Regions from separate parts of the Homo sapiens genome. Here regions 2, 3 and 4 are each linked to region 1. The links come from fine-mapping of genetic effects on gene expression. A gene starts in region 1. Each other region holds a variant in brackets. All regions are shown on one strand. Distances are between the middles of the regions.

Evidence for each region. PIP is the estimated chance that this variant, and not a neighbour inherited with it, causes the effect.
Region 2: its variant is fine-mapped to the expression of CTXND1 in sigmoid colon (GTEx, PIP 0.98).
Region 3: its variant is fine-mapped to the expression of CTXND1 in atrial appendage (GTEx, PIP above 0.99).
Region 4: its variant is fine-mapped to the expression of CTXND1 in lung (TOPMed, PIP 0.94).

What each region holds. Positions count from the first base shown.
Region 1 is chr15:80,251,132-80,253,820 of GRCh38, forward strand. CTXND1 (cortexin domain containing 1) reads right to left here and starts at 1,082. Exons shown (of 3, transcript NM_001352888.2): 1 at 876-1,082.
Region 2 is chr15:80,154,385-80,157,073 of GRCh38, forward strand. The region is part of intron 1 of FAH (fumarylacetoacetate hydrolase); the gene reads left to right. Among named protein-coding and RNA genes, the nearest start is that of FAH, 2.7 kb to the left of the region's middle. The variant C/T (reference allele first, on the strand shown) is at 1,185.
Region 3 is chr15:80,383,474-80,386,162 of GRCh38, forward strand. All of the region lies in intron 3 of ARNT2-DT (ARNT2 divergent transcript), which reads right to left. Among named protein-coding and RNA genes, the nearest start is that of ARNT2-DT, 19 kb to the right of the region's middle. The variant A/G (reference allele first, on the strand shown) is at 1,110.
Region 4 is chr15:80,221,668-80,224,356 of GRCh38, forward strand. All of the region lies in intron 1 of CTXND1 (cortexin domain containing 1), which reads right to left. Among named protein-coding and RNA genes, the nearest start is that of CTXND1, 29 kb to the right of the region's middle. The variant A/C (reference allele first, on the strand shown) is at 1,381.

The DNA of each region.
Region 1 (2,689 bases):
GGTCCCGAGCCACATCCTGACAGGCCACTGTGGCCCTATTGCACGCCTGGTGAGGCGGTGCATCAGCTTGGATTTTCTAACAGGTTCTTTTCCAGAACTTTTGCTGCGGGCACGGAGACTCTTACCAAATTCGGCTCCATAATACATTCCCCAAAACATTAGAACCCAGGATAGGTCTACGCCTCCACTGATACGGAAAAATATATGAAAGCGTGGATTAGGGTTTTTGCCACAGATGAGAACAAAATCCAACGGAGACTTGACATTTCTTTAGAAAGGCTGCCACCAGCAGAACTTTCCCCAGAAGTTACATCCGTGCTGACCTTCATCAGTTACATTGAGAAAAAATCTGTTCTATGTGACTGTCAGCCACAGGAGAGGGAATTTTAGGCACTGAACGTGACGAGAAGGACTTTCTAACTTTGATTCAGTTTCAACTCACACTCCCCAAACCCCTCAATGGCAGAGAGGCCGAGGATCCCCGAATGGGGAGGTGAGGCTCAGAACAGCGAGGGTGCCTGAGCACAGCACCACACTCTCCCGGTTTCTGAGCCCCGAGCCCCGCAGTGGAACTCGGGCCGCTGCGACGCGGCTCCCGTGCGGCTCCCACCGAGGCTGCTGTCCCCTGCCGCGCGGGTCCGGCCCTCCCCGCCGACCGAGGCGCGCCCCGGGCGCAGTGCCGCCGAGGAGGGGATCGGTCCCAGTGTCCACGCGGGTCTCCTCGCCGCCGCGGCAGGGCTCGGCCCGACTTCAGCGAGCAGATCCTCCGCCTGCGGCCGGTGACCCGCGCGACGCCCCGGCGGCACCGACAATGCTGTGCTCCAGCCCCGCAGGCGCCGCGGCAGCGGGTCCCGGGATGCTCCCGCGGTCCTTACCTGGCGAGGCCCGTCCCGTGCGCTCCCGGGGTCCTGGCTGGGCCGGCGCCGAGCCCAGGGCGACCGCGGATCGCCGGCTACGGCGTTTCCCGGTGACGGGGGCGCGGGCTCGCGGGGCGCGGGGGGCGCTGCCCAGGCCCGGCTCGGCAGGAGTCAGAGCCCCCAGCGGCGCGGGCGAGCCCGGGCCAGCAGCCGAGAGGGGGCTCTGAGCGGAGCCGCGGCCGTCCTGGCATTTTAAAGGCGAGGCAGCTGGACGCTGTTCAAGCGGAAACGCAGAGAGAAACTTCAGCCCCCGGGGCAGAGCGTTGGCAGCGAGGGGAGGGGGCCCAAGAGCTCCTTGCAGGCGCACAAACCAATCTGGGCTATTCCAATATGCTCTTCAAATGCATTTTCTTCAGATATTCTCTTTACAGTTAAAAAAAAAAATCCCCCCAAACAACAACGACAGCAAAACCCTCTCAAAGCCTTCTCCTGCAGTATGCTTCATAGCAAGCCAAACATTTCCATTAAAGTTAGGGGCAAGAGCAGGGGGCCGGTTTGGGACGTCTGGTCAATGCAATCAGACAAGAGAAGGAAATAAGGTGTAAAAATACTGAAGTTGTGCCTTTGTTAAAAAAATATATATTCTATATGTGTGTATATATGTATATATATTATATATATGTGAAGCGGGAGAAAAATGATTACTGTTTGCAGCGGATGTGATTGTGTAGTTGGAAAGTGCAAACTGAAGATTGTTGAAATAATAGCCTTTCCAAGGAATTGGCAGGCTACAAAATAAACATACCAAATTAACGGTGTTCTTGTGCACTTACTAACCATTTTGAAAGGCAAATAAAAAATCCCATTCTCACTAATAGCCAAGCCACAGTAGCTAGGAAAAATAAACTTATCATGAAATGTGAAAGAAAAAAAAAAAAAAACAACCTTCTCTACTAGGGGACTAGAGAAGACTTGAATCTATTATGACGCACGCCTTATTCTTGGGCAAGAAGAAGTAAACACTGTAATCCCATCATGTCCTCTTTATCTGTCAATTCAATGCCATCTCTATCAAATTCCAAGTAGAATTTTCTTTTTAACTTGACATGATTCTCAGTGTCATGTGGAAGAATAAAGAGACCAGGCAACAAAATGTTGATAAGGAAGAGCATAAGGGAAGCTAGCCCTGCTGGATATTAAAATGAAGAAATGCTTGCATGCATAAATGAATAAATGAATAAATAAAATACATTGTTTGAGTGCTTACTATTTAAGGAAGTGCTCTACGTGGATTAATGCATTTTATTCATCACAACAAGCTATGATGCAGGTACTGATACTGCTGCCATTTTCAGATAGGAAATGGAAGCCCAAAAGTGTAAGTATCACACTTACACTTTTGTGTAAGGTCACACAAGTAGGAGTAGGGGATCAGGGGTTTGATGCAGGCGTTCTGCCTGCAAAAACTATGCATCTATGTGCTTCAACCCCATCACACGACACCGCCTCTGTCACAAGGCAAAAACCAGCACATTACTGGTCCGGACATGACTGTTCAATGGAATGGGATGAAGAGCCCAGAATTAGAAGTACATGAGAAACTGTGGTGTTTAAGGTGGTACTTCATGTTAATCAGATAGATAGTTTTTATTTTATTTTATTTTATGTTTGAGACGGAGTTTTGCTCTTGTTGCCCAGGCTGGAGTGCAATGGCACGATCTCGGCTCTCTGCAACCCTCTGCCTCCTGTGTTCAAGCAATTCTCCTTCCTCAGCCTCCCAAGTAGTTGGGATTACAGGCATGCGCCACCACACCTGGGAAATTTTTGTTAGG
Region 2 (2,689 bases), 97 kb before region 1:
CGTTAGAGTGTGGCTAGGTGTTTTCAGACACCATGTCCCGCTGTTTCAACATCAGAATGTGCAGGGCAGCCACTACAGATGTCTGGAAGAGAGAGCCCCATTCCGCTGTCCTCTGATACAGTGCTGGGGGTGGAGAGTTGGCCCTTTGGCCTTCCAGCTGAACAAGCCTCTTCTGAAGCTTTCTCTGCAGGCATTGGACATTCCAACCGTGATGGCTGCCTTGCCAGGCAAGACTAGTTGCCAAGGCAAAACCTCCCTTCCCCCATGTCAGCAGTCAGCCTTTCCTAATTTGAGTGGAATAACAATGAATCCTGCCATCACTTTATTCATTTTTTTTTATTCAGCGAATGCTTATGAACCCCAACTCTGGTCCAGATTTTGCCTGGGCTCCGAGTTGGCATCAAAGACACAGGAGACGCCTTCCTTCCATTTCTGGTTGATGGACTAGTAAGGTGTACAGGGGTGCTCTCTGTGAAGGTAGGGGTGGTGGCCTCTGAGAACGGGGTTGTAGTAGTGTGGAGCTGGTTTTGCCGGGTGCCTTGTTAAAGTCCCCGTGGTCTGGCTGTGCTGCTGCCTCCTGGCCTCTGCTTTCTCCAGCCACATTGGCTGCCTTTGAGTCTCTGAGATGTGCTAAGAGCAGCTTCCTGCCTTCAGGCCTTAGCACATGTTGTTCCTTCTGCCTGGAATACTCGTCCTTCTGCTCTCTATATGCTTGGCCCCTTCTCACTCTTTGGGACTCAGCTTAAATGTCACCTCCTAAGCACCCTCTCTGAATGAGCTCCCCGCTGCGGCCCAGCCTTGGTTATCTCTCACCACACCCTGTGTTTCCTTTTGCTTCTGGAGAGAAGGAACCACGTCACTGTTCCCAGGGCCTCAGCAGCCTTTGTGTAATGCTGGTACTGAGAAGATGCTCTCTAAATCTTTGTGGCATGAATAGCGTCTACCCTGTGTCTGTTCTTGTGGTGAGAGATTTACAGATATTAATTAAATTCTCACAATAAACCTACTGTGAAGTTATTGTCCCCATTCTACAGATGAGGAAACTGAGGTCCAGAGAGGCAAAGCATCATGCTCCAGATCTCACAGCCAGTAAGAGGCAGATATGGGGTTGATCCCCACATCTGTCAGCCTCCCAATCTGTAAGGTCCAGCCCTACGGGGCTTAGCGGGTTTTCTCCCTGTGTG[C/T]GGAAACGAGAGATTGTAAGAAATAAAGACACAAGACAAAGAGATAAAGAGAGAACAGCTGGGCCCGGGGCACTGCTACCACTGAGACACAGAGACCGGTAGTGGCCCCGAATGGCTGGGCACACTGATATTTATTGCACACAAGACAAGGGGGGCAGGGTAGGGAGGGTGAGTCATCCAAGTGATTGATAAGGTCAAGCAAGTCATGTGATCATGGGACGGGGGCTCTTCCCTCTAAGGTAGCCGAAGCAGAGAGGGAAGGCAGCATAAGTCAGCATTTTCTTCTATGCACTTATAAGAAAGATCAAAGACTTTAAGACTTTCGCTATTTCTTCTACCGCTATCTACTACAAACTTCAAAGAGGAACCAGGAGTACAGGAGGAACATGAAAGTGGACAAGGAGCGTGACCATTGAAGCACAGCACCACAGGGAGGGGTTTAGGCCTCCAGATGACTGCGGGCAGGCCTGGATAATATCCAGCCTCCTACAGGAAGCTGGTGGAGCAGAGTGTTCCCTGACTCCTCCAAGGAAAGGGAGACTCCCTTTTGCGGTCTGCTAAGTAATGGGTGCCTTCCCAGGCACTGGCGTTACCGCTTGACCAAGGAGCGCTCAAGCGGCCCTTATGCGGGTGTGACAGGGCTCACCTCTTGCCTTCTAGGTCACTTCTCAGAATGTCCCTTCAGTACCTGACCCTATACCCACCGGTTATTCCTAGGTTATATTGTACTACAATAAAGAGTAATATTAAAAACTAATGATTAATAATGTTTATACTAATAATCGATAATTGTCCATGATCATCTGTATATCTAATTTGTATTACAACTGTATAGCAGTATAGCTACAGTTTATGCCTTCAGTCTCTTGCCTCGGCACCTGGGTAATCCTTCGCCCACACCAATCCCATGCTTCCCCCTCTATGTCAGGCTGGGAGTTGGGTAATGCTTTCCTTTGGACAACTTTATATCAGATATGACCAACTATTTTAAAACAAAGGCAATGCACATTCATTCTCTTGAAGTTAGACAAATGCGGTCTCCCTCCTTAGTTTGTTTCCCTCAAGTTGCAGATGGGAAACTGAGGCCCAGAGACTTGTCCAAGGTGATAAGATGGTGAATGAGGGAGCAGACTTGGAGCCCAGGAATCCTGGATCTGACCTGTGAGCCCCCTCTAGTTTTGTGCTGAAGAAAATAACTCCCAAGGTTGAAAGTAGAGGGACTCACTCTCTCAGACTTTTTCTGGGTCCTCAGGTCATAGTTTGAAGCACAAGTTTGAAGCTTCTAGGCTTTGTTTGCATTTGAGGCAGCAGGCAGCTGCACTTGTGACCCCATTTTGGAAGTTGCTTACTGGTGGTGACTCCTTCTTGCCTTCAGCTGGGGTGTGGGGACCAGGGTCAGAGATGTGGTCCAAGGGTCTGCCCTGCACATTCCCTGAATGGAAAGCCACTTGGATTCAGGTGGTTCAGCTCTTTGCCTAAAGCAGATTTGCCATTTTCAGGAGGGG
Region 3 (2,689 bases), 130 kb after region 1:
TGCAAAAACAGGAGTGAATAAGTCACGTTCCCTACTCATAAATAGCTCATATTTCTAGAGGAGAAACAGTTGGGCAAAATATAATTACAATGCCCTAGCTACCTGACCCTAGCTAGGAAGGCTTTCATTTAAACTATATCATTTAGTTTTTATAAATAATCCAGTCAGCTATGACTTACTCCATTATATAGAGAAGAAAACAAAAGCTCAGGGAGGTGAAGTGACTTTTCTAAGGACACACAGTCTTTAAATATCAGAGCCAGGCTTGAATTCAGGTTTTCCAAAGCTAATTCCAGCTCCGTGTTCTCTGTATAACTGAGGCCTAAAAGATTGAACAGTTCCAGTTTTGCCCAGTGTTTTCCCCATGGTTTGTAGCAATTATAAAAATAGATATCACACAAGACCATGCTGAACCTTTCCTTTTTGTCTAAGTACTTCCTAAAGGAACAGTCCTGCCATGTGTCATTAAAGCAGGAGTTCTCAATGGGCACAGTGGTTCACGCCTGTAATCCCAGCACTTTGAGAGGCTGAGGCAGGCAGATCACGAGGTCCAGAGATCAAGACCATGCTGGCCAAGATGGTGAAACCCCGTCTCTACTAAAAATACAAAAATTAGCTGGGCGTGTTGGTGCTTGCCTATAATCCCAGCTACTCAGGGGACTGAGGCAGGAGAATCGCTTGAACCTGGGAGGTGGCGGTTGCAGTGAGCCGAGATTGAGCCACTGCAGTTCAGCCTGGAGACAGAGTGACACTCCATCAAAAAAAAAAAAAAAGGAGTTATCTTTTTGAAAAATGCAAAGAAGAAATGAGAATTTGTTTTCAAAATTAAATTCAGAGTGATAAATTCCTCTCCTGGGACCCAATTCCATGAGCCTGTGGCCTGGCATTCTTTCCTTGGACTTATATGTAAAGACAGGGATACCTTCTACCTGTATTTTTCTGCGGTTGGCATGATTTCGGAAGTAACTATTAACAACACAGTGGTACGCTTCAACAGTAGAATTGTATACTTATGCAGATTTATGAGAGATTTTTGTTCTGTTAAAATTTCTTTTCTGAGGCAGTGTAATGGGAACACGTGCCAGATGGACTCAAGATGGTCTTATCTG[A/G]TATCTATTAATATTACTGTTGCAACCCACAGGAAAGGCACTGGGTGGAGTTGGCTGACCCTGTCATGTGAAGCATGAGGCTTGCTATTGCCTACTTTAGCAGAGTGATGTGCAAGGGATGCCTGACACCAACTCACCCCAGCCTTGGTGAAGCGTTTACATTACTAGTCTATTTATAATAAAAAGCTCTGGCTGTGCCACTGAGGTCCTTTAGGAAAATAGCAACCCAAAGAGTTTATGCAAAATAATATCCTTATTTGCTTATTGGGCTAAAATGTGTCAAGGACAAGACTTTGGAAATAGGATGCACATGAATCCCAGCCCAAACCTTTTACCAGCTGTGTGACCCTGGGCAGACTTTGATTTCCATAAATGCAAGAGGGCAATAATAAAATATACTTTTCCAGGTAATCAGGAGTGTTAGCAATAATGTTCATAAATAACATAAAGTTCCAGGAGAAGAGTGGATGCTCAATAAGTGGTTACTCTTGTTTTCAAGATTTCCCCCCATGAAGTTACCTAAGAAGCGTAACATTTCCTCCAATGAATAATATGTGTGATGCATCGATCACAATGGATATATGTTGTTTAGAGTCAACCTTTTTTTGTTTTGGAACCTATCTTAAACTATGCTGGCAAACTTAAAAATTCAGCTAACATTTGGCCTAGAAAAAGGTAGAAAGGTTATGTTATGCCCCATTAAAAAAAATGCCAGTATGGTATTTTTCTCATTTTTACATGATGGTCTCTTATTCTGCATCAGTGATAATGAAGACTTTTTAATTATCAATAATTTTTCATTAAATATTGCCAAGCTGTTGCTAATTTTCTTTGGTGAACACTAGCAAAATATTTGCCTGGATGACAGTACTTGAGAATTATCCAAGTCCAAGAACACAGAATAATGGGAAACTAGGCCCTTCCTTTCTAATTTCCAGGGCTGTTTCTAGAACAGCACTTTCTTCTACAGCAGGCTCTCCAAGGACACCAATTTGGGCAAAATCAGGCACATCATTGCAAACCTGAGTGTGGAGACTTGCTCACTTGGCATTTACTGGAAAAAAAAAAAAAAAGAACTTCCACGTGCCACGGGCATTTAAATGCTTGCTAGACCTTGCGGTTGCAGAGGGGAGTCAACAGGACTCCTGCCTCCAAGGATTCTCAGTGGGCTGAGGTCTGCAGGCATGCATTGAATCCCACAGCGCAGAAAAAACTCCAACAAGTTATGAGCTTGTGTGATGCGGGAAGAAAGAACAGTTCTTGTAATGACACAAAGATAGAGGAGGCCACCTATCTGACAACTCAAATCTAATTTCATTATAAAAGTCACTTATTTCATAATGAAGTCAAAACTTCTGTTGCGTATGTATTTGTCTCAACAAACTCTTTGGTTGTAAGTAAAGGGCAACAATTCAGGGGACTTAAGGACTAAAATTCGGAATGGACTCAAGAATGCTTTGTGAAGCCTTGAGGCTTAAGTGACCGGACCTCTCAAGGGAGGTAGTCACAGTCAGAAAGCCCTCAGCTATCTGAGCAGTCCTCATACCTCACCTCTGTTTCTCTGTGTCTGTTTCATTCTT
Region 4 (2,689 bases), 29 kb before region 1:
TTTCTAGCTTCTAAAGGTGACAGTTTAGTAAATTTATTTTAAATCTTTTTTGCTTAATAGAAAAATAAATATTTTTTAGGGCTTTATATATTTCTTTGAGTATAACTTTGGCTGCATGCCATAGATTTTGGAAACCATTGCTCTAACTGCTATTCATTTCTATGTAGTCTCAAGTTTATATTTTGATTTAAATGTTGTTTGGAAATATGTTTCTCAAAAATTATTAAATAGCTAGAAAATTTTATTTGGGGTTTCTCTTAATTGTTAATTTCTAGTTTCATTGCACCGTGGTCAGAGAATATAGCTTGTATAGGTGTTGCTTTTTGCATTATATGTGTGTATACATAGTCAGTTTCTTGAAATGATTCCATGGACATTTATAAAAACGTAATATTCTGTTTTGGGGGCATATAGGATTTTAGATATATTCATTAAATCAAGATTATTCATTATGCTATTAGAATCCTCTATTTCTTCATGGCTATTTGATCCATCCAATTTTAAGGTTTATATTCTTTTTGTAAGGGAAAATTTGAATTTAAAATTTTATGGAAATTTAAAACATACACAAAGTAGAAATGGCGATATAATAAATCCACATGTACCAATCATCCAGATGATCAATTATGAATATTATACCACTCTTATTTCATCAACATACCCCCCCTTTTTGGAGTATTTTGAAGCAAATCCCAGGTAACATATCATTTTGCCAGTAAAATACTTCAATTTAAAGCTTTAACAATTAATGACTCTTTCTTAAATAGTCATAACTATAATACTTCTATCATAACCAACAAATGTAACCCTAACTCTCTAATATACAATATCCAATTCATGGTCAATTTTCCCCAATTATCTCAAAATTGTTTTCTTAAAATAGGTTTGTTTGAATTAAGATATGAATGAGTTTTACACATTATCTCTTTTAATTGTTATTAACAGTTCCTCCTCTCTTTTTAATGCAATTAATAGGAACGTTTTTGAAATGGGTATAGTTGTAATTCTGCCAAGTTTCTTGTTTTTCTTACAGTTTTGCCTTATCATTATTTTACTTTTATTGTTGTTCTATAATGCTTTTTATTTTTTACTGCATCTTTTTTAAAAAATTATTTCTTTGTTTCACTAAATCTGCCATAGTATTTCCTTGAGTGTGTTTTTCTTTTACAATGGATTCACATATGACAATGTTTCTTAGATATATTTGTTATAAATAAACAAATAAACACAAATACATACAGACACACATTTGTATCCTGTCCCCTAGAAGAAACCACTATTCTGATATCACCACAGATTAGTTTTACCTGTCCTGAAACTTCATATAAATGGAATCATACAGAATGTTTTCTTTTGTGTCTGGCTTCTTTCACTTAACAT[A/C]AGGTCTATGAGATTTATTCATATTTTTATTTATTTACTTATTTTTTTGAGACAGAGTTTTGCTCTTGTTGCCCAGGCTGGAATCCAATGGCGCGCTCTCGGCCCACCTCAACCTCCGCCTCCTAGGTTCAAGCGATTCTCCAGATTATAGGCATGTGCCACCATGTCCGGCTAATTTTGTATTTTTTTAGTAGGGATGAGGTTTCTCCATGTTGGTTAGGCTGGTCTTGAACTCCCGACCTCAGGTGATCTGCCCGCTTCAGCCTCCCAAAGTGTTGGGATTATAGGCCTGAGCCACCGCGCCCGGCCGAGATTTATTCATATTTTTGCATGTATTAGTAGTTCTTTTTTATTGCTGTGAAGTATTCCATTGTATGAAATGCACGATATCACGATTTATTCACTCTACAACTAGTGGACATTTGGGTTGTTTCTAGTTTGGGACTATGATGAATAGTGCTGCTAAGAAATTCTTGTCTGTCTTTGTTTATCTTTTGGTGGATATATGTATCCATTTCTATTAGTTGTATATCTAGAAGGTTGCTGGACTGTATAGGTGTATGTTTAATTGTTGCAATTATGGGCAGAGTTTTCCATGGTGGATGGACAAATTGACACTCCTATCAACAGTCCCAGTCGCTCTGCATCCTCATCAGCACTTGGTAGGTTGGGCCTTGTAAATTCCAGCCATTCTGGGGGTAGATTGTGGTTTTTATTTGCATTTCTCTGATGTGAAATTAGAACCTTTTAATATGCTTTTTGGCCAAAAAAAAAAAAAATACCCAAAACAAAAAAGCAACCATATGTGAGGGTTGATGTGCTAATTTAAAAATATGTCCACAAATACTTTGAAGAGGTTGAGTCCATGCGTCCCCCCATTGAGCCTGGGTAGGCCTTTGTGACTGCCTCAGTGGATAAAATGAGGTAGAAATGATGCTGTGTGACTTGGCTGAGTTAGAAAAGGCCACATCATTTTTGCTGTTTTCTCTTGGGACACTCACTTTGGGAACCTTGAGCCGCCATGTCAAGAATCAGCTGCTCTGACGATCACTAAGTGGAGAGACTAAAGAGGAAAGAGGGATGCCTGAGGAACCCCAGCAGTTCCAGCCCCAGCTGTGTAAGTCTCCCCAGCTCAGGTGCCAGATATGCAAGTGAAGAAGACTTTCAGAAGACCCCAGCCCAGCTCCAACCACCGACCGACTGCAATCAGCTGAGAGATCCTGAGTGAGAACAGCCTAGCTGAGCCCACTTAACTCCCAGATTTGTGAACAATAAAATAATTGCTATTGTTATAAGCCAAGATTTGGGG